Regions from separate parts of the Homo sapiens genome. Here region 2 is linked to region 1. Evidence: fine-mapped expression QTL. A gene starts in region 1. The other region holds a variant in brackets. All regions are shown on one strand. Distances are from middle to middle. Region 1 holds the start of ZNF10 (zinc finger protein 10). Region 2 overlaps ZNF10 (zinc finger protein 10).

Region 1 (11,018 bases):
CACACCCCTCACATTCACAAATTCCAGATGGATTAAAGATATGCATATGTGTTGAACAGGAATTCCAGAAGAGGAGAAAAAAGGGAACAGAAAAGAAGCAATGTGAGATATAATGAATGATTGTTTTTACTCCAAGATGAAAGAAGGATATATAAGTCCTTGATCTGAAAGCCTATATACCATGTGCCATGTAGAATACATTTTAAAAATACATCAGCTACCAGCTACACTGAAGGTAAACTAGAATATCAAGAATAATGTGTAAAACTTTAAAGTTACCGAAGAAAAAAGGCTAATTATCTACAAGGGAATATCAATTATACTGACTACAGACTTCTCAGTTGCAAAGATAGAGGCCAAAAAGGCAATAAAATAATATCTTCAAAGTACTAAAGGAAAACAACAACAACCTAGAATTCAATCGTATGCTAAAGACTGAGAGCAATATAAAAGGCCTTTTATATTGCTCTCAGTCTTTAGCATACGATTGAATTCTAGGTTGTTGTTGTTTTATATGGGTGTTCTATATGGGTGTGTGTGTTAACCACTCAAGATAGTTCCTGAAGGAACTACTAAAAGGATGTAAGCTGAACTCAGAAGAAAGCAGAGGGGTGTAGGAGTAAAACAAAAGCAAAGAAGGAATTCAGAGGAAACAATGTAAGAAACAGAAAACAACAAACTTCAAAGCAACAACAGCATATTCAAAAGAGCACACAGCAAGGGATATTGGAATTAAAACAATATGGAGACATAATTTTTCTATGGAAAAACCATACAGACTTCAAATTGTATAAACATTATCTGGACCATGAGTCAAAGAAATGAATTTTAAAAATTCACGAGAAAACGGAAAAATCTGAACACTGCCTATACATTAGTTACTTATTTTTTAGAGACAGGGTGTCACTATATTGGCCAGGCTAACCTTGAAATCCTGGCTTAAGTGATCCTCCACCTTAGCCTCTGGCCTCCTGAATGGCTGGGACTACAGGCATACCCTCCCCACCCCATCCCTTGGCTTTTGCCTATAAATTTGATATAAAGGAATTACAAATTTTGCAGGTGTGAGACTATCCTACTTAAAAAGGAGTACTTATCATTCAGAGATGCATTCTGAAATATTTGCAAATAATATATAATGTCCAAGATTTGCTTCAAAATAGAACAATGGGGCCTTTTTCACAAGATGGCACTGATGGCGAAGAAGGAAACTCCTGTCTCTCCTATGGCTAAAGCCAAAGCAAAGGCTTTGAAGGTCAAAAAGGCAGTGGTGAAAGGTATTCACAGCAACAAAAAAAAAGAAGATCCGCATGTCACCCATCTTCTAGCAGCCCAAGACACTGAGGCTCTGGAGGCAGCCCACGTATCTTCAGAAGAGCACCCTCAGGAGAAACAAGATTGACCACCATGCTATCATCAAATTCCTACTGAGTCTGCCATGAAGAGGATAGAAGGTAACACACTTGTGCTCACTGTGGATCTTAAAGCCAACAAGCACCAGGTCAACATGCCCTCCTCACAGGCTTGTGAAGAAGCTCTATGACACTGATGTGGCCAAGGTCAACACCTTGATCAGGCCTGATGGAGAGAAGAAGGCATATGTTTGACTGGCTCCTGGTTCCCATGCTCTGGATGTTGCCAACAAAACTGAATAATCTAAACTGAGTCCAGCTGGCTAATTCTAAATATGTACATCTTCTCATCAGGAAAAAATAAAATAGGATGATTGGTACACTGTACTACTATATTTGTGTATGTGTTTGAAAACTTCATAATTTGAAAAATAATCAGAGAGATATTTCCTCTATGAAATAAGAATACAACTCTATGGATTTTTTTTAATTTCCCAGGAAGTTAAAAATTATAATTTAAAAACTCCCCAAAAAGGTACAAGGGTTAAAAGATAAACTTAGGGCCGGGCACGGAGGCTCATGCCTGAAATCCCAGTACTGAGGCGGGTGGATCATGAGGTCAGGAGATCGAGACCATCCTGGCTACTGTGAAACCCCATCTCTACTAAAAATATAAAAAATTAGCCGGGCGTGGTGGTGGGTGCCTGTAGTCCCAGCTACACGGGAGTGTGAGGCAGGAGAATGGCATGAACCTGGAAGGTGGAGCTTGCAGTGAGCCGAGGTCGTACCACTGCACTCCAGCCTGGGCAACAAAGCGAGACTCCGTCTCAAAAAAAAAAAAAAAAAAAAAGATAAACTTAAGGAACTTTTCTAGAAAGCTGATCTTGGCTGAACACAGTGGCTTACGCCTGTAATCCAGCACTTTGGGAGCCGAGGTAGGCGAATCACTTCAGGTCAGAATTCTAAGACCAGCCTGGCCAACACAGTGAAACCCCGTCTCAAATAAAAATACAAAAAAAAAAAAAAGCTAGATGTGTTGGTGCACACCTGTAATCCCAGCTACTCGGGAGGCTGAAGCAGGAGAAATGCTTGAACCCAAGAGGTGGAGGCTGCAGTGAGCCGAGATGTGCCACTGCACTCCAGCCTGGGCAACACAGTGAGACTCTGTTTCAATAAATAAATGAATAAATAAGTAAAGCTGATCTAAAAGAAAAAGTAAGAATAAATAAAAAAAGACCACTATATGAGCAATTTAAGGTACCCCAGATTACTCAGAGTTCCAGAAAGAAAAAACAAGAGGAAGAAACAAACAAGTACAGGAAAACTTTTTTTTTTTTTTTTTTTTTTTGAGACGGAGTCGCCCAAGCTGGAGTGCAGTGGCACAATCTCGGCTCACTGAAACCTCTGCCTCCCGGGTTTAAGCAATTCTCTGCCTCAGCCTCCGAAGTAGCTGGGATTACAGGCGCCGGCCACCACGCCCGGCTAATTTTCTTATTTTTAGTAGTAGAGATGGGGTTTCACCATCTTGGCCAGCCTGGTCTTGAACTCCTGACCTCATGATCCACCCACCTCGGCCTCCCAAAATGTTGGGATTACAGGCGTGAGCCACGGTGCCCGGCCAGAAACTTCTTATTCCTTAAAAAAACACAGTATCTAAGAACTGATCCATCAAAGCAAGTAATTTCTTTAAATAATTAGAACACACATCATCATGAAATTTTTGAATACCAAAGAGCTCCAAGAGATGATAAACAGATTACACATAAAAGAACAAGGTATGAAATAGGACTTCTCAACAGTAACAGTAACACTGCTCCATTTCCTATCTAGCTTCACTGGCTTTCAAAATTCTAATGGAAAGTAATTTCCTATTGAGATGTGTATACTCGGTGAAAACACCACACAAATGTGAGGAAAAAGTAATTTCTAATCATTTCTACAACTTTAATATATGTAGATCATATGGACCCTTTCTTCAAGGCAGTTAAGATTACAATCCACCAAACAGGAATAGAAGTGCTTTACAGGAAACAGGAGATTTAACACAGAGGTGAGATGAGGAAATTGATGAGGGCAAAAGGGAAGCCCAGTGGTATGCCAGCGTGCTGCATGCCTACAGAGTAACTGATCAATCTACATTGCAGGGGGATGTCCAGGAAAGGAGAAAAGTGATAAGACTGTATGACAGATTAGCCCTTGAGGAAAATGGAACCAAAAGACATTTTACATAGATTTAAGAAAAACTAAGCAAATGAATAAAAAAGGCAGTCATTAAAAACAAGAAAGGTAAACCTTGCACAAGAAAGAAACATATTATGGCTCAGTACTAAAGAGTAGTCATCAAATGAAAACACTGAACATATTTATCCAAAATTTGTGGGAGAACTACATTATAATATTTGTAAAATAATTACATTGTGATTTAAGGATGTAGAAAGAAGGCAGCCAAAGTTCTTATTTAACATGATAAAAATTTTAAAATAATGTCACAAATCGGTGAATAAAAAAATACTGAGAGGAGTTCGAAGCCAGAACTGCTTAAATATTTCCAAGTGGTTGCCACTGGGAAGAGATGGGGTTAAGGTGTTTCCTGTTTTTATTATGAGTCTTTTAACATATTCAGCTCTTAAAAATGTACACACACATTTCTTGGAGCACAAATAAAGAGTAGTAAATTAATTACCCAGTCAAATCAAGAAGCAGATGGCCAGGCACGGTGGCTCACGCCTGTAATCCTAGCACTTTGGGAGGCCAAGGCGGGCGGATTGCCTGAGCTGAAGAGTTCGAGACCAGCCTGGGCAACACCGTGAAACCCCGTCTCTACTAAAAAATACAAAAAATTAACCGGGCATGGCAGTGTGCGCCTGTGATCCCAGCTATTCCAGAGGCTGAGGCAGGAGAATGGCTTGAACCCGGGATGTGGAAGTTGCAGTGAGCAGAGATCCTGCCATTGCATTCCCGCCTGGGCGAGAGAGAGAGACTCTGTCTCAAAAACAAACAAACAAACAAAAACAAAAATTAGCTGGATTAGCCGGGCGTGGTGGGGCCTGAGGCAGGAGAATCGCTTGAATCCGGGTGGTAGAGGCTACAGTGAGCCGAGATCACGCCACTGCACTCCAGCCTGGAGACAGAGTGAAACTCTGTCTCGAAAAAAAAAAAAAAGTAGAAAAACAGAGACAAAGTAAAAGAAAAATTTAAAAATTAAGAGCAAAACTTACTGTAATAGGACCCCCCTCCCCAAAAAAGACCAAAACAAAACAACAAAAAAACCAAAACCAAATCTACATTTTTGAAAAGACTATGTACACATATACCTTATAGGAGTAATCAAGAAAAAAAGGCCTAGATAATTAGGTTCAAAAAAGAAAAAAATAACAATTACAGCAGTAAAATATTAAAAAGTGGTGATTTTAAAAATCACCATAGAAATTACTTACAGTGATAAAATAGCATGGGCAATTTTATGCCAATAAATTTGAAAAATTAGATTAAAAACAATTATCTAGGAAAGGTATCTAAAACAGAATACGAACTAAAAAACCTAATCAATGAGACTTTTTAAAAAATTGAGTCAGGGCCGGGTGCGGTGGCTCACGCTTGTAATCTCAGCGCTTTGGGAGGCCGAGGCAGGCTGATCACCTGAGGTCGGGAGTTCCAGACCAGCCTGACCAACATGGAGAAACCCCATCTCCACTAAAAATACAGAATTAGCTGGGCGTGGTGGCTCATGTCTGTAATCCCGGCAACTCACAAGACTGAGGCAGAAGAATCACTTGAACCCGGGAGGCGGAGGTTGCTGTGAGCCAAGATGGCGCCATTGCACTCCAGCCTGGGCAACAAAGAGCGAAACTCTGTCTCAAAAAAAAAAAAAAAAAAAATTGAGTCAGAAGTTAAATGCGTACTAAATATTTTAAGACCAAATAGCACCAAACTTTTGGAGGCGGGCGGGGGGCGGTGAGGGGTGGTGACCTGTTTTACAGAATAGAAGAGAGACTGTGCTGTCCAAATTATTCATGAAGCTTGTAAAATCTTGTTAGTATAACGGGCAAGGATAGTACACAAAAAGATTAAAACACAATCTTGTGAGCATAGGTGAAGTCAAAGGGAAACAGCCAATTGAATACACCAGAGTATTAAAGAAATAAAACCATATCGCATTCAACCACAGTATAAGGCAATAGGTGAAAAAAACGATGGCTGTGATTCAACTCATTACTAGGTTTAGAGATTCAAGAGAGGCTGCTGGACAGAGGCGTGCACCCTTTAGCCCTCCCGTGTTGCTTAGAGAAGGAGGCAAACGCGCATCCCCGGCCCCCCAGCGCTCCCTGCGTGGCACCCGCAGCCAGCCCGGGACCCCTCCGCCCCGCGCGCCCCTGGTCCCCACTCGCTCCCCGCGCTCCACTCGCACCCGGTAAGTAGCCCCTCCTCCCTCAAGGGCCTCTCCCACCGCCGCCTCCCGGGCAGGCTCCCTGCTGCTCAGACTCCCGTGAGGCGATCCCTGCACGCAGGAGAACTCAGCGGGCCAGGCTGATCCCACGAGGGACTTGTCCCGGGTGAACGAGCCACAGGCCCGCATGCTCACCCGTCCTCAGTGCCTGCCTCCAGGCGTCCGCGGTCCCGCCCGAGGGGGACGCGAGGCCGAACTACGTTTCCCAGGAGCTCCTGCGCCGCCCCGCAGAGGGGCCTGGTCTGTGCGTCACGGACGCGCTCTGGGCCGAAGGCCCGCAGGGTCCGGCACAGAGTGGCGGCTGCGGCGCCGGCGACGAATCGCCGGCTCTAGGGTCCCGGGGCGCGCGGCTGACGGGCTGGGGGCGGAGCGTGGCCTGAACGCCAGGCTGGGGCGCGTGCGTAACGGTGTGTGTTGTGGGTGCGTGTGCGTGCGTTCGCAGCAGGGGCGGGCGTAGGACCAATGGGGGCGGGGCGCGTGCGCGTGCGTGACGTCAGGCCACGGGGAGGTGGCGCCGCCGTGCCGAGCCGGCCTCAGACTCACCTCTGACGCCGCTCTTCGCGCTCCGCTGGTGAATGGAGTCGCGTTCTCTGTTTTGCTGTTGCTGCTGCCTTTGTGACGGGATCGCTTTCTCCCATCGAACCTTCTAGTTGCTTATTGCAGGTATATACGAAAGTGCTGAATTTTGTGTTTGCATCGTCATCAGGCGCGTGTTGAGCCCTTTAGTAATGTAGCAGTGTATTAGCTTCGTATTTCTAGGTAGACGGTAATTTCGTCAATGAAAAAATTTAACGGTGATCGTCACCCCTTGCCTCAGTCACTTTCTGTCCCTCGCGCGGCCCCGGCGTTCACGGCGGACGTTCTTGTTCTGTGGAGAATAACGGCTGCACCTGGAGATTGACGCAGAGTGGGCGGCGGTGGTGGTAAGTTTGAACCAGATATTTTCAGTAATACAAAATAAGGTTTCTTCTAGTCTAACTTCCATTTTTCCCCCCAGCTGGGATAGATGTTTAAAATTTTGCATATGGCCTTTCTAGTATTTGTTGAAATAGTGACGCCGATTCGTGTGTGGTCTTTTAAAAACAAATCCTGCATCTCTAGCTCTTAGCTTCCTCATCTTTGTTTTGTTTTTTAATCAGATAGATTAACTGAAGGCGTGTTTGTGTGGTTAATCTATTTTTTTTATTTTCAGAGACAGATCATAAGTTTAATTACTATATTTTTATTTTCCCTTGACACTAGATATATATACGCCATCTAACACATAATATGAGTGTCAAAGATAAGGTTAACATCAAGATTTCGTACGTAGATCCCACCCAAAGTGTATGCAGAAGGTGAACAATTTCAATTCCAGCTATACATTAATTGCAGAAAGATACTGTTAATTAAAAAAAAAAAAGTAAAAGGGAAGGCAGGATGTCACCCAGAATGCCAGCCAACAAGTGTTATTAGGTTAGAAATGACTGCAGTTAGGTCTCCGAGAACTGGATAGCACAAATCCTCCCTACCCTTTTGAAAATTACCTCCACACTAACTTTTCTCTTGTGACATAACTAATCTCTTCTGTTTTACTAAAATTGTCCCCCATCTTCCAAAGCCTCTTGGATGGTAAGTTGCACACGCTCCTGCCTCTTTTTGAAAGTTACATTTGTTTTTTGATTACTTCTCTCAGCATGCATTTCTTTAGCTCTTAGTATATGCTAGTCACAAGGGCAGAGATTTGAGATACACATCATAAATTAAATGAGAATTTCTGCTTATCAGTATTTTATATAAGCACTGTCTGGAAATTCTACTTAGGACAATATTTAAGTAGATATGAGGCTTACCTTCTGGAAAAGAGATTACAAAATTATCCTTGTTAATTAATTAACTAATTAAGTCCCCAAAATGAGAAGAGATTCAATTACTATCAATAATTTGTAGTAAAGTGACTGAAAAGGAAATATATAAGCTAATAGATTGATTGCCGTCCTCAACAAGTTAGCACATACTTTTATTTTTAAAAAGTCTTCACAATAGGAAGAAAATAATTTTAGCTAGAAATATATGTGAACTATATGAGAAAAACTTCAAAACCTTACTAGGCAATTCTTACTAGAAGAATAAAGGATGAGTAAGAATAAAAACAGTTCTGTTTATAGATTATATTCAATTGTCAAGAAAATCTGAGAATTTTTTTTTTTTTTTTTGAGATAGAGTTTTGTTCTTGTTGCCCATGCTGGAGTGCAATGGCTCGATCTTGGCTCACTGCAACCTCTGCCTCCTGGGTTCAAGCAATTCTCCTGCCTCAACCTCCCTAGTAGCTGGGATTACAGGCGCCAGCCACCATGCCCAGCTAATTAACATATGCCAGTCACAAGGGCAGAGATTTGAGATACACATCTTAAATTAACAAGAGCAACAAGAGCGAAACTCCGTCTCAAAAAAAAAGTATTTTAAGGAAAAAGAAATTTCTTATTGTTAATATCTCTGTTGTGCCTACAAGAGACTCTTTTACTTTCATCAGCAGTACTCTTTCTAGCATGTCTCATGTCAGCCAGGGCTTTTAATTCTTCTGGCTATGAAGCAAGGTTGGGACAAGATATGATATAGGCCACCTTTGTCTGTGTATGTGCCTCTTTGACTCGTAATGAACATCCAAGAGCATTATTTTTTCCTCTTTCCACACAATATCTCCTTGCTGACTGATCCTAACATTTCCTGTTCAAAATTTTATTATGAAGAATTTTGAGCATACAGCTAAATTAAAAGAAGTTTACAGTGAATACTTATAAACCTTCCCATCTAGACTCTACCATTAATATTTTACTGTACCTAATTTTAACACATACCCATCTGTCCCTCTTTTTATCCATCAGTTCATTGTATTTTTAAATTTTTTTCAAAGTAAATTGACATGGGTACGTATTCCTTAAAAATTTCAGAATACGTATGTATTATTAATTAGAATTCTATATTTGTTTAGATTTTTCTTTAGATGTAAAATTTACATAACATGAAAAGCGCAAATCTTAAGTGTACATTTGCTGAGTTTTGACAGATGCAGGATCTTTGCCTTTTGTATCTTTAAGTATATCTTTGCCATGTCTATTGGTTACCGAGTTTTAACTTTGTGGCTGCTGGGTCCTTTTTGCTGATCATACCTTGCCCTTTGCTGAAGCAAATACTGGTAAACCTATTCAGAACTTGAAGAGACCCTGTTCTCTTTATTAATGAACATGTACTCCATGTCCCCAAGTGAAATGCGGTTCCTGACGAGGTTGTACCTGTCAATGTGAGTGCTGGTTAAGTATAGTCACATGTCAGAGTGAATGAATATGAAGTGCTAAGCACTTTGCTAGCCTCTTCCCAGGATTTAGAATGAGATTGTCCTAATTCTTAAGTGGTTCACTATCTCATAAGGGAGACAGACAAATCTTGGTACCGTAAGGCAGCGTTGAAGTGCTGGAATAGGGCATGGGCAGAGTCCTTCATGTTTACGGATGATAGAACCACTGATCCTCTCTGAGATAGTGGGAAGGCGTCACAGCATAGATGGCATTAAAGTGATCCTTAGAGAATATGGGGCAAGTGTAGTGGGAGTTAAGTTGAAAAGGGTCCAGAACGTTGTTGTGAAACTTGTACGCTAAGTGTTTGATTGGAGCTGTGCTTTGGAACTGCGTGTGCCTCAAATAGTAACTTTCATAGCCTTCTTGCCGATACTTGGAGCTTCTTTTCAGCCCATCTCTGCCCTTGTGGCAGCCAAAATAATGGCTCCCCAGAGATATCCCCAGCACCTGGGAATATTTTACCTTATACTGCAAAATAAAATTTGCAGTTGTGATTCAATGAAGGATCTCAAGATGGGGAGAGATTATCCTGGATTATTTCAGTGGGCTTAGTGTAATAACAGGGGTCCTTAAAAGTAAAAGAGCTGGGTGGCCGGGCACGGTGGCTCACGCCTGTAATCCCAGCACTTTGGGAGGCCAAGGTGGGGAGATCACCTGAGGTCAGGAGTTCGAGACCAGCCTGGCCAACTTGGTGAAACCCTGTCGCTACTAAAAATACAAAAAAAAAAAAAAAAAAATTAGCTGAGTGTGGTGGTGGGCGCCTGTAATCCCAGCTATATGGGAGGCTGTGGCAGGAGAATCACTTGAACCCAAGAGGCGGCGGTTGCAATGAGCCGAGATTGCTTCACTGCACTCCAGCCTGGGCAACAGAGCAAGACTCCCTCTCAAAAAAAAAAAGTAAAAGGGGGATAAGAAGGTTAGCAATCAGGGAAATATAACCATGAAAGAAAGGCACAGAGAAATGTATCATTGCTGGCCTTGCAGGTGGAGGAAGGGTCAGGAGCCAAGGAGTGTAGATGGTCCTAGACACTGGACGGGGGCAAGGAAATAGATTCTTCTCTAGAGCCTCCAGAAGGAACACAGCTCTGCCAACACCTTAATTTTAGCCCTCCGAAACCTGTATCAGACTTCTGACCTCCAGAATTGTTATGTAACAAATGTGTGTTGTTGAAAACCACAAAGTTTTGATAATTGGCAGCAATGGAAAACTAATATAGCCCTCTGTCCTTAAGAGTTTACCAAAATAAAAATAGTCTCCCTTTCTCTGGCACTATGTTTTGACTTTGCCTCAGAAGAAAAATGGAGTGATTATAAATATTTTTTGTGACCACTCTGGTAGAAAATATAGACTTTATTGTAACATTTATGTTCACAAATAGAATTATATAGTCTTCTAGGAGATTTTACCATTTGGAGGTGGGAAGAAAAATCTCTTTGCAAATGTAAAGCTCACATTGTGGAATGGCTGTTGCTGTGCTTTCTAACTCCTAACATTGGACCTTTTCTCATCGTTGTTCCAGTTTTTCCTTCCCCAGGAAGTTTTGCAGATTTCCCCAGCCACATTTCCTTTCTCCATTCTCTTCATGTCTGTGGTACTAGACTTTTAACATCCTTCCATGGTTACAATCTGCTTGAGGGAGGGAAATTATTCTCATAGTTGTGTTCCTAACATCTTAAAAAGAGCTTCTCAGGTAGGGGACGCTCAGTCACTCTTGATAGCTACCTGAAATGCCTTTTGATCTTAGTGTGCGCATATAGAATTGTCTTTTGCCTTTCATGGGTCTGCCTTGTCTTACTGGGAAGATTATTGGATCTCAGAGCATCCAGACTACCTCTCATCTTTTGTTCTTACACAGCAGTGACCAAATAGTAAGTTGGGCTCCA
Region 2 (11,018 bases), 26 kb after region 1:
CTCTGGTATCATTTCCCTTCTGCCTGAAGAACTTCCTTCAGCACATCTTCTAGAGCAGAACTTCGGGCAACAAATTCTGTTAGTTTTAGTTCATTTGAGAATATCTTAATTTTGCATCATTTTTGAAAGATATTTTCACTGGACGTAGAAATTCTGGTTTGTCTGTTCTTTCAACATTTAAAAACAAACAAACATTATTCCACTGTCTTCTGACCTTTATGGTCTTTGATGAGAGACCCTCAGTCACTCAAATAGGTTTTTCTCTAGATACAATCAACACTTATTTTTGATGTGGCTGATAAGGGCCTTGCATCTGTCTCCTGTTTCTTTGTCAAATTGTTTTGCTACTGCTAAAATATAATCTCCCAACTCTTCTGTTTTTTTTTTTTTTAGTACCTACCAATAGTCATGAAAAATGTTTTGGATAATTATTTTAGGTTATAAAACATGGCTAGGGTGGTAAATCTCTTAAGCATTAAGGTGTACTTGAATTAGGTTCTTTATTTACGTAGTATAAAAGTGGGTTAACTTTTTTGGAGAATGGATGATTCCCCCTGCCATAGCTGTTTAAAATTTAATTTAAATAAAAATGCTTATGACAGTTTTCTTTAACCTAAAGCATCACATAAAACTTGTTTTCAGACAGTAGGTACCTAATAGCCATTCCTTTTAAGACTTGACTAGAATAAATACTACTCACTCCTAGAATAAATTGTGGTCCATCCACTTTACCTGCCCCAGTGCTGTCAGCTTAATTTCTCTTCCTGTTAGCGATCAGGAAAGGGGGATAGCAAAGATGCATATCTGGTGCAATGCAAATGTGTTTGATGTTGTAGACACTGGTGACCTTCAAGGATGTATTTGTGGACTTCACCAGGGAGGAGTGGAAGCTGCTGGACACTGCTCAGCAGATCGTGTACAGAAATGTGATGCTGGAGAACTATAAGAACCTGGTTTCCTTGGGTAAGACTAGCTCTGTTTTTGAAGATTTTGGTTCTCCATTGATCAAAAGGTACAGAGACCCTGAAGCATGTATCACACCAGAGTATAGGCTTGGCGTTCAGAGACCTAATTTCTTTGAGGCATAGAACAGGGTTTTTTTACTCCAGCTTTTGTGGAAAACTTGTTTTAATGTATTGAAGTTTTAAAAATGCCTCTTTAAGGAGTTTTCTGGCTGGGCATGGTGGCTCACGCCTGTAATTCCAGCACTTTGGGAGGCCGAGGTGAGCAGATCACAAGGTCAAGAGATTGAGACCATCCTGACCAACATGGTGAAACCCCGTCTCTACTAAAAATACAAAAATTAGCTGGGCGTGGTGGCGTGCTCCTATAGTCCCAGCTACTTGGGAGGCTGAGGCAGGAGAATCACTTGAACCCCGGAAGTGGAGGTTGCAGTGAGCCAAGATTATGCCACTGCACTCCAGCCTGGCAACAGAGAGAGACTCCATCTCAAAATAAATAAATAAAATAAAATAAGTTTTCCTGCCTCTGTCAACTTTAGAGTCCCTGCCAGTCCTGCAGAGGGTTGGTGGTCAGGTTGAATCTGAGATGTTTCTTCGTGCCTACCTCAGAGCTCCCCTGACTCTTACCCTGTTCTTTGTCTTTCACTGTGAACAGGTTATCAGCTTACTAAGCCAGATGTGATCCTCCGGTTGGAGAAGGGAGAAGAGCCCTGGCTGGTGGAGAGAGAAATTCACCAAGAGACCCATCCTGGTGAGGACCAGTCAAGAGTTGTCATAGGCAGCAGCCCAGATGGGCTGTGAGGTGCCAGAACTTCTAGAGATAGTGGTCACTGGCCCTCCTCACAGGCCCTTCTTCCTGGGAAGACTGAGTTTATCTGGCCCCTGTTTCCCCACTGCCAGTCTTTACATTCCATTTGCATTCAGAGGCAAAGGTTTCTCTGTCTGTTGACGTGCTTGGTTTCAGCGCTTGCACGTGTCGCTCTCCTAATTGTTACCACTCACTCTAGCATCTTGTGCTTTCGTTTGTCATAGAATCACTTCTTGCATTTTTGCCTCTCTTTGTTCTTTCATGTGACCCCTTCCCACAACTCAGTTCTCTGTGCAAGCTCTGGAGTGGGACTCTTATCACCTTCTTTTCTGAGAGTTTGTTTTCTGCCAGGTAGAAAACTGCTGCAGAGAGCTCATAATTCCTGTTGCCTCAACTCTCCTTCCTTTCCAGAATGGCTGCTCACAGAAACACCAGTTTTTCCTACTGTACTTTAGATCTTTTTTTCTTTTCGAGATGGAGTTTCACTCAGTCTCCCAGGCTGGAGTGTAGTGGCGCGATCTAGGCTCACTGCAACCTCCGCCTCCCAGGTTTAAGCGATTCTTCCGCCTTAGCCTCCCAAAGAACCAGGAATTACAGGCATGCACCACCACGCCCAGCTAATTTTTGTATTTTTAGGAGAGATAGGGTTTTACCATGTTGGCTAGGCTGGTCTCGAACTCCTGACCTCAAGTGATCCGCCCACCTCGGCCTTCCAAAGTGCTGGGATTACAGGCGTGAGCCACCATGCCCAGCCTCTATCTAGTTTTGTATTTAATGTTTTAAAAATTTATTTATAGGCATTTCCCTGCATCTCAGACTTTGAGTGTGATGTAAATTAAATCTGAGTCTTACTTGTCCTGTAATTTAGCCTCAAGTTCTTTCCCATGAAGGCTTTTATGATTCCTCATTAAGTATTGGCCTCTTCCTCTTCTGAACTTCCACTTAGTTTAAATCTCTACTTTGAAATATTATCATAAGCTCTTTTTTACTTTTTAGTATTTGCCTTGTAGGTGATTGTATCAAAATGGTATCTCAAAGCAAGTCTTTCTTTGGGACCATGGGAGGAAATATTGTTATATTTTCTTTTTATTACTTACCTTCTTTCTTTCTTTTCTATTTTGTTCATCTAGTAAGCTTTCCTGAATGTCTGTTGACAAGTATCCAAAAATAACAATTATTAACTGGACCCAGCAGTTTATATTTTTATTGAGAATTTATTGTCAAAAGAAATACTCAGACTTCATGGGCTTAAAGGCATGGAGTTTTACAGAATCTACAAGGCTGTTAAATTCATTATCAAATCAAAAAATATAATGAATGATGATTTTTAAAAATCAGATGATTAGTTGATTGATGGGTCCAACAGACTTCGACAATAACTTACTGGCATGGTTGTATTACATAATATGTGGAAGATTTTAGGATATTAATAAAACACCTCATTCTTATGACCAAACTCTCCACTCAGAATTGTCCTCCATAAGTGCTCAGCACCCCCCTTATCATAGATATTCTTCATAGAATCTTCCAGTTGGCATTTGTAGGTTGAAAAACTTCTCCATAAGATTTTCTGATGTTCTGGGTTGGGGAAAGGGAGGAAAGGGTGGTGTATTTCCTATTAAAAATCATCAGGATGGGGAAGAAACTAGGAACTAACTAAGTGGTAAGGGACAGGACTGGTCGGGGTGGGATTGTATAAGGAAGTCATTTAGGGACCAGGCCTGGCACAGGGATCATTTACCAGGTGTATTAGTTTCCTGGGGCTGCGGTAACAAAGAACCAGCAGTTAGGTGGCTCAAAACAACCAAAATGTATCATGTCACAGCTGGAGGCTGTTAAGTCTAAAATGAAGATGTCAGTGGGGCTCTGCTACGCTTCTAGGAGAGGGTCTTTCCTTATCTCTTCCAGGCTCTGCTGGCCCCAGGTGTTCCTTGGCTTGTGGATATATCATT[C/T]CAGTCTTGGTCTCCATGTTCACATGGTCTCTTCCCCTGTGTCTGTGTCTTTTTTATGGAGGACCACCCTCATACTGGATTAGGGGCCCATCCTATTTCTGGTACTACCTCATCATAACTAATTACATCTGGAAAGACTGTATTTCCAAATATGGTCATATTCTGAGATACTGAGGATTAAAACTTCAACATACCTTTTTGTCGGCGGGGGGGATACAGTTTAACCCATAATACCAGGTAAGAGTGGAATGTCACCCCACTTATGTAAGATGAAGTGGTATCATCAGTGTATTTTTTAGGTTTGGGATTATATGTTTTACCTGAAAGACATTGAGAAACAGATAAAGCTCTTATTCAAGAGAAATAATTTGCAGTAATATACACAGGTAGCAGATGGCAGAAATTCTAAGAGCGTATGGGTCAGGCTTCAGATTCTAAGTTCACATCTTGTGGTAGTAGTCCTATCAGTTGTTAAGTCCTTATGTTTCAGAGCGAAGAAATCAAAAAAATGAGAAGAATGATGATGATTATTGTAAATCTTATTGCTTTGACCATAAATGTGCCAGAGACTGTAATAGGCTCATGCTTTATATAATATAATAATCTTAAATAACAAATACTGTCATCCTTAGATTACAGATAAGCAAAATGAATTCTTCAAAGTTTAGCAACTCGTCTAAATTCACCACTAGTCGTAATATAAAACTTAGAACTTGCATCTTGGTAACTTTTGTGCAGTTACTCTTCCACCTTGTCATGTAGCTGCTCTGAGAGGTCTGTTGTGTCACTCATCTGGGTGTTATTCTATAGTGCTTCTGTGATTTGGATAGAAAGCATTGCCTGACGTATGGCTGCATTCATGGTTTAAGAATACTAAATTGGGCCGGACGCACTGGCTCACGCCTATAATCCCAGCACTTTGGGAGGCTAAGGCGGGTGGATCACCTGAAGTCAGGAGTTCAAGACCAGCCTGGCCAACATAGTGAAACCCTGTCTCTGCTAAAAATATTAAAAATTAACCAGGCATGGTGGCAGGTGCCTGTAATCCCAGCTACTTGGGAGGCTGAGGCAGGAGAATCATTTGAACCTGGGAGGCGGAGGTTGCATTGAGCCAAGATTGTGTCATTGCACTCCAGCCTGGACAACAAGAGCGAAACTGTCTCAAAAAAAAAAAAAAGAGAGAGAATACTAAATTGATAGTAATGTGAAGAATGTGTGTCAGGGGAAAGTCCTGACAACAAGTAGACAGGTGAGGAACTTAGACTGTTAATATCTGGATTAGAAAATGAGAGTGCAGTCCTTTTTATGGAATTTCCCTTATTTCTACCCTCACCATTGATACCCTGATCCCATGTGTCATGCTGTGTCCTGTGGCTTCTCCTTACTCCTTTTGCCCTTTGTGAGTACTGTATACCACAATGCATTTATTGTTTACCGCTCCATTCTTCCTTTTCTCATTCTCTATCAAAGTTATAAAGCCATATTTGAAAGCAACTGTGTACATCTTGCATACTTTGTCTCCACATACATCCTAGCATTCTCACCTTAATACTCTGTTTAGTTACACAAACATTTTTCATTTCTTTCAGATTCAGAGACTGCATTTGAAATCAAATCATCAGTTTCCAGCAGGAGCATTTTTAAAGATAAGCAATCCTGTGACATTAAAATGGAAGGAATGGCAAGGAATGATCTCTGGTATTTGTCATTAGAAGAAGTCTGGAAATGTAGAGACCAGTTAGACAAGTATCAGGAAAACCCAGAGAGACATTTGAGGCAAGTGGCATTCACCCAAAAGAAAGTACTTACTCAGGAGAGAGTCTCTGAAAGTGGTAAATATGGGGGAAACTGTCTTCTTCCTGCTCAGCTAGTACTGAGAGAGTATTTCCATAAACGTGACTCACATACTAAAAGTTTAAAACATGATTTAGTTCTTAATGGTCATCAGGACAGTTGTGCAAGTAACAGTAATGAATGTGGTCAAACTTTCTGTCAAAACATTCACCTTATTCAGTTTGCAAGAACTCACACAGGTGATAAATCCTACAAATGCCCTGATAATGACAACTCTCTTACTCATGGTTCATCTCTTGGTATATCAAAGGGCATACATAGAGAGAAACCCTATGAATGTAAGGAATGTGGAAAATTCTTCAGCTGGCGCTCTAATCTTACTAGGCATCAGCTTATTCATACTGGAGAAAAACCCTATGAGTGTAAAGAATGTGGAAAGTCTTTCAGCCGGAGTTCTCACCTCATTGGACATCAAAAGACCCATACTGGTGAGGAACCCTATGAATGTAAAGAATGTGGAAAATCCTTCAGCTGGTTCTCTCACCTTGTTACTCATCAGAGAACTCATACAGGAGACAAACTGTACACATGTAATCAGTGTGGGAAATCTTTTGTTCATAGCTCTAGGCTTATTAGACACCAGAGGACACATACTGGAGAGAAACCCTATGAATGTCCTGAATGTGGGAAATCTTTCAGACAGAGCACACATCTCATTCTGCATCAGAGAACCCATGTGAGAGTGAGGCCCTATGAATGCAATGAATGTGGAAAGTCTTACAGCCAGAGATCTCACCTTGTTGTGCATCATAGAATTCACACTGGACTAAAACCTTTTGAGTGTAAGGATTGTGGAAAATGTTTTAGTCGAAGCTCTCACCTTTATTCACATCAAAGAACCCACACTGGAGAGAAACCATATGAGTGTCATGATTGTGGAAAATCTTTCAGCCAGAGTTCTGCCCTTATTGTGCATCAGAGGATACACACTGGAGAGAAACCATATGAATGCTGTCAGTGTGGGAAAGCCTTCATCCGGAAGAATGACCTCATTAAGCACCAGAGAATTCATGTTGGAGAAGAGACCTATAAATGTAATCAATGTGGCATTATCTTCAGCCAGAACTCTCCATTTATAGTTCATCAAATAGCTCACACTGGAGAGCAGTTCTTAACATGCAATCAATGTGGGACAGCGCTTGTTAATACCTCTAACCTTATTGGATACCAGACAAATCATATTAGAGAAAATGCTTACTAATAAATATGGGAATTTTTCACAAAGAGCAATGACTTTATTTTGCATTGGAGAACTCCTGGAGATAAGCTGTACAAATTGAATCTATGTGGAAATGCTTTCAGTCTTGTTACTATCCTATTGCACATTAGAGAATTGGTCCTGGAAGGGAAAGAAACCACAGATTTTATTTCAGTACACAAATCCATCAGATTTTCTTCTTTTCATGAATTCCTACAGAAGTAATTGGCCTGAGAGCATTCTTGACCAAGTCTTAAATGCTAGAATCTGAGAAGGAATTATTAAATAGGTGAGTTGTTGAGCGAGAACCCCTTCATTTGAAAAGAAATGAGTATGCTACTATAGGGAGAGTTGTTGCTGAGAATTAAGAAATGATACAGTTAATGCAACAAAAGATGGAAAATAATATTTCAGTCAATATGTCATTGTTTTCTTGACTATGTCTCTCTTCTGGGACATTTAGTAGTGTTTGGTATGTTTTATGTGTCTGGTAGAAACCATATTTTGGTTAACAGCAAGAAAAATGCTTATAATGTAGTACAATTAAAAACAACACATCTCCACTACCAGTGCTAACCCATTTTTAAGTACATTTGCATGTGGGCAAGAATTGAAAGTATACAGATAATTGAACAGAATTGATTTGTTAGATAAGGAGATTTTGACTGAGTTTTATAGTCTGTTTAATGTTGCTGTAATAATTATTTTAAGAAACTTTTAAATATTGTAAGAGGATATCTAGTTTCTCTATTCTACCATCAAAGAAGCTTTTGAGTACCACCTGTTAATGAGCTTTCCTATTCTAAATTGTTTTGGGTCACAGAGTTCCACTTTTTCCACTCTTATTAGCACTGCAAAAGCTCCTGAGAATTTAAAAACACAGTAATTCTCTGGATGTTAGGACCTAGGGGAACATTGGGCATTTGAACATATCAGGGAGGGTCCCCATTTTAGTGGGAACAAGTATTTAAACAATATTTAGAGCAAGTGTCCTCATGTGATAAACAGAGCACAGTCCAAAGATACCCTCTTTCTCAAGGTAGTCTTTTATCTTTATAAAGAAAGATTAGTGTTTAAGAGCGTAGACTTGAGCTAGACTACCCAGGTTGAAACCCCACTAGCTGGGTGATCTTGAACATGCTGCTTAGCTTCTCTGTGCCAAACTTACTGATATCCTCATCTGTAAATTAGCGATAATAATAGTACTTACCTGGTAGGATTATGGTGAGTATTAAATGAGTAAATGGAAACAGCTTAGAATAGTGCCTGACATATATTATGTTCTCTGTAGTTACTGGCTGTGATTATTAATAATATTGCCGCACCCTAATATCTGTTATTTAATTGAAATCTGCTTGTGTGCTTATAAGAATTTACTGAGTTCTCACTTCCCTTACAGTCATACATGGTTTTTCCCTTTTGCCTAAATCAGAACTCAACAGCCTGGGAAAATCACTGACAAATAGTGGATATAGGTTTCATTTCTGAGGATCAATAAACAGCTTGTAATGTTGTATACACATTTATTCTGTTTGTACAAAGGTTTTCCATTCTATGGAGAGGATCCCAGTCTTCAGATTCTCTGGTAAGTTAATAACCCACAAAAGATTCAGGAAGAGGATCTATTTTAATTTTCTCTTTCATTCTATAAATCAGTCTGTTGTATATAGGGACTGACCATGATTCTCCATTTTCTGGCATAAATATTAGCTGCTCAATGATTGATTGTTGAATGATAGATGAAGTATTGCTGAAGCCAACCAGAGATCTTGATCTCTCTCTGAGGAAAAAACCTAGAAATGATGGTTAGAATCAGGAGACTTGAGAACTACGAGGAACATGGCAGCCTCTAGCTCATACTTGTCGTTGTACAATTGAGATCAAGTGAATTGGCCCCGGTCTCACATTTTCAGTGAAGTCAGACTCAGAACTAGGTCCTGGGTTTCATGTTTCCTGCTGCTCTTCTCACTGTGTACACACCATGCCCACATACAACATACCTATCAGAAATGGTTTTCATTAAGGGAGTAGAATAGTCACTTAACTGGGGCTCTTAACATTGCTAATAACCTGTGGCTCAATTTCCTCAACTGTATAATGAGGTTACTACTAGTATCTACCTCAAAGCGTTGTCATGTGGATTGAGATGATATGTATGAATCACATAAAAGAGTGCCTGGCACATAGTAGGTGCCATTAATAATATTACTATTGTTAACACCTTAAGGGTCTAACTTGTAATGAAGACAGAAATATGTATGAGGATGATCACTGAAATATTTATGACAGTGCATAATTTGCAAAATAAAAAATGTACACTAGCATAATATTTGTGGCATATCCGTGTAATGGAAGATTATGCAGGCATTAAAATATGTACACAAAAAGTTTGGTAAAGGAAAAATGCTGTCATGTGTTACAAAAGCATGATAAATAATTGTTAATATGGAATAAGCTCAAATATGTCAAAATAAATGTAAAAAATGAGTGTTGCCCAAAACTAAGGAGATTTGTCAAAATATTAACAGTAGTTAGCCTATATATTGGGAAAATTGGTGTTTCCTTTTCTATTTTTACACTTTTCAGTTCTTTCCAAAGCCTCCTGAAATAATATATCTTACTTGTAGAATTAGGAAAACAATCTCCTCAGTGATGGAATTTTTTTTTTCTTCAGAAGCTCATACCAAGGCCCAGTGTGTTAGCTCATGCTTATAATCCCAACAACTTGGGAGGCTGAGGGAGGAGGATTGACTGAGTTCAAGACCAGCCTGGGCAACATTGCGAGACCCTGTCTCTACAGAAAGTTTAAAAATTAGGTGTGGTGGTGCATACCTATAGTCCTAGCTACTTAAAAGGCCCTGAGGCAGGAGGACCACTTGAGACCAGAGTTTGAGGTTGCAGTGAATTATCACAGCACTGCACTCCAGCCTGGGCAACAGGGTGAGACCCTGTCTCCAAAAAAGGGGTGTGAGGGCTCATACATATTAATAAGCTACTAGAGGCCCAGCACGGTGGCTTACGCCTGTAATCCCAGCACTTTGGGAGGCTGAGGCGGGTGGATCACCTGAGGTTGGGAGTTCAAGACCAGCCTGGCCAACATGGTGAAACCCTGTCTCTACTAAAAATACAAAAATTAGCTGGGTGTGGTGACGCACATCTGTAATCCCAGCTACTCGGGAGGCTGAGGCAGGAGAATCTCTTGAACCCGGGAGGCGGAGATTGCAGTGAGCCAGGATCGCACCACTGCACTCTAGCCTGGGTGACAGAGTGAGACTCTTCGTTTTCCGTTAAAAAGAAAAGCTACTAGAACCTTAATAAAGGAATTTAGCACGGTCATAGGATATGAGGTTACAAAAATCAATTTTATTTCTATATGCTAGCAGTGACCAATTAGGAAATGAAATTGGAAATACAGTTCCATTTATAATGATACAAAAAAAGTTAGGTTTTGAAGGAAAGGTGAGGGTTAAAGAGAGAGTGGCTCAACAGAAACACAGGTTTATTGCCAGCAAAAACCTGCAGAGAGGGGACCAGCTTAGTGCCGGAGCCCACTGCTGCTTTCAGGCTGGGGTAATTATAGGTCTGGGTGGAAGGGGTCTGGGTGGTATGGCTTGCTGCCTGGCAGCATTTGATAAAGATGTTCCTGTTGTCAGGTGGTTAGGTAGGATGTTTCTCATGGCCCAAGCCCCTGAAGAATCGCCTTGACCAGGGTCTGTGAAATGGTTGGGGGTTTATAAAATGTTGCAGCTTGGACTAACAGTGACCAATTAGGAAATGAAATTAGAAATATAATCCCATTTACAATGATAGAAAAAATGTGAAATACTTAGATAAATTTAATGAAACATGAAAGACCTGCACAGTGAAAACTATAAAACATTGCTGGAAGAAGTTAAGGAACATATAATAAGAATAAATAACACAAAAGAAACGGAGAAATATACCTTGGTCAAGGATGGGAAAACTCAGTATTGTTAAGATGGCAGTCCTCCCGAAATTAATCTTTATTTTATTTATTTATTTATTTTTTGAGACGGAGTCTCGCTCTGTAACTCAGGCTGGAGTGCAGTGGTGCGATCTGGCTCACTGCAAGCTCTGCCTTCCGGGTTCATGCCATTCTCCTGCCTCAGCCTCCCGAGTAGCTGGGACCACAGGCGCCCACCACCACGCCTGGCTAATTTTTTTGTATTTTTAGTAGAGACGGGGTTTCACCCTGTTAGCCAAGGATGGTCTTGATCTCCTGA

Evidence for each region.
Region 2: its variant is fine-mapped to the expression of ZNF10 in thyroid (GTEx, PIP 0.95).

The regions. Positions count from the first base shown.
Region 1 is chr12:133,124,293-133,135,310 of GRCh38, forward strand. It overlaps ZNF10 (zinc finger protein 10), which reads left to right and starts at 6,335. Exons shown (of 5, transcript NM_015394.5): 1 at 6,335-6,462. ZNF891 (zinc finger protein 891) reads right to left here and starts at 5,982. Exons shown (of 2, transcript NM_001277291.2): 1 at 5,935-5,982. It also overlaps the pseudogene RPL23AP67. RefSeq lists silencers at 5,598-5,777, 6,148-6,387 and enhancers at 6,438-6,717, 7,800-7,969.
Region 2 is chr12:133,150,192-133,161,209 of GRCh38, forward strand. ZNF10 (zinc finger protein 10) reads left to right here. Exons shown (of 5, transcript NM_015394.5): 3 at 837-963; 4 at 1,618-1,713; 5 at 5,312-9,274. The coding sequence ends at 6,777. Among named protein-coding and RNA genes, the nearest start is that of ZNF10, 25 kb to the left of the region's middle. RefSeq lists enhancers at 5,018-6,217, 9,684-9,853. The variant C/T (reference allele first, on the strand shown) is at 3,723.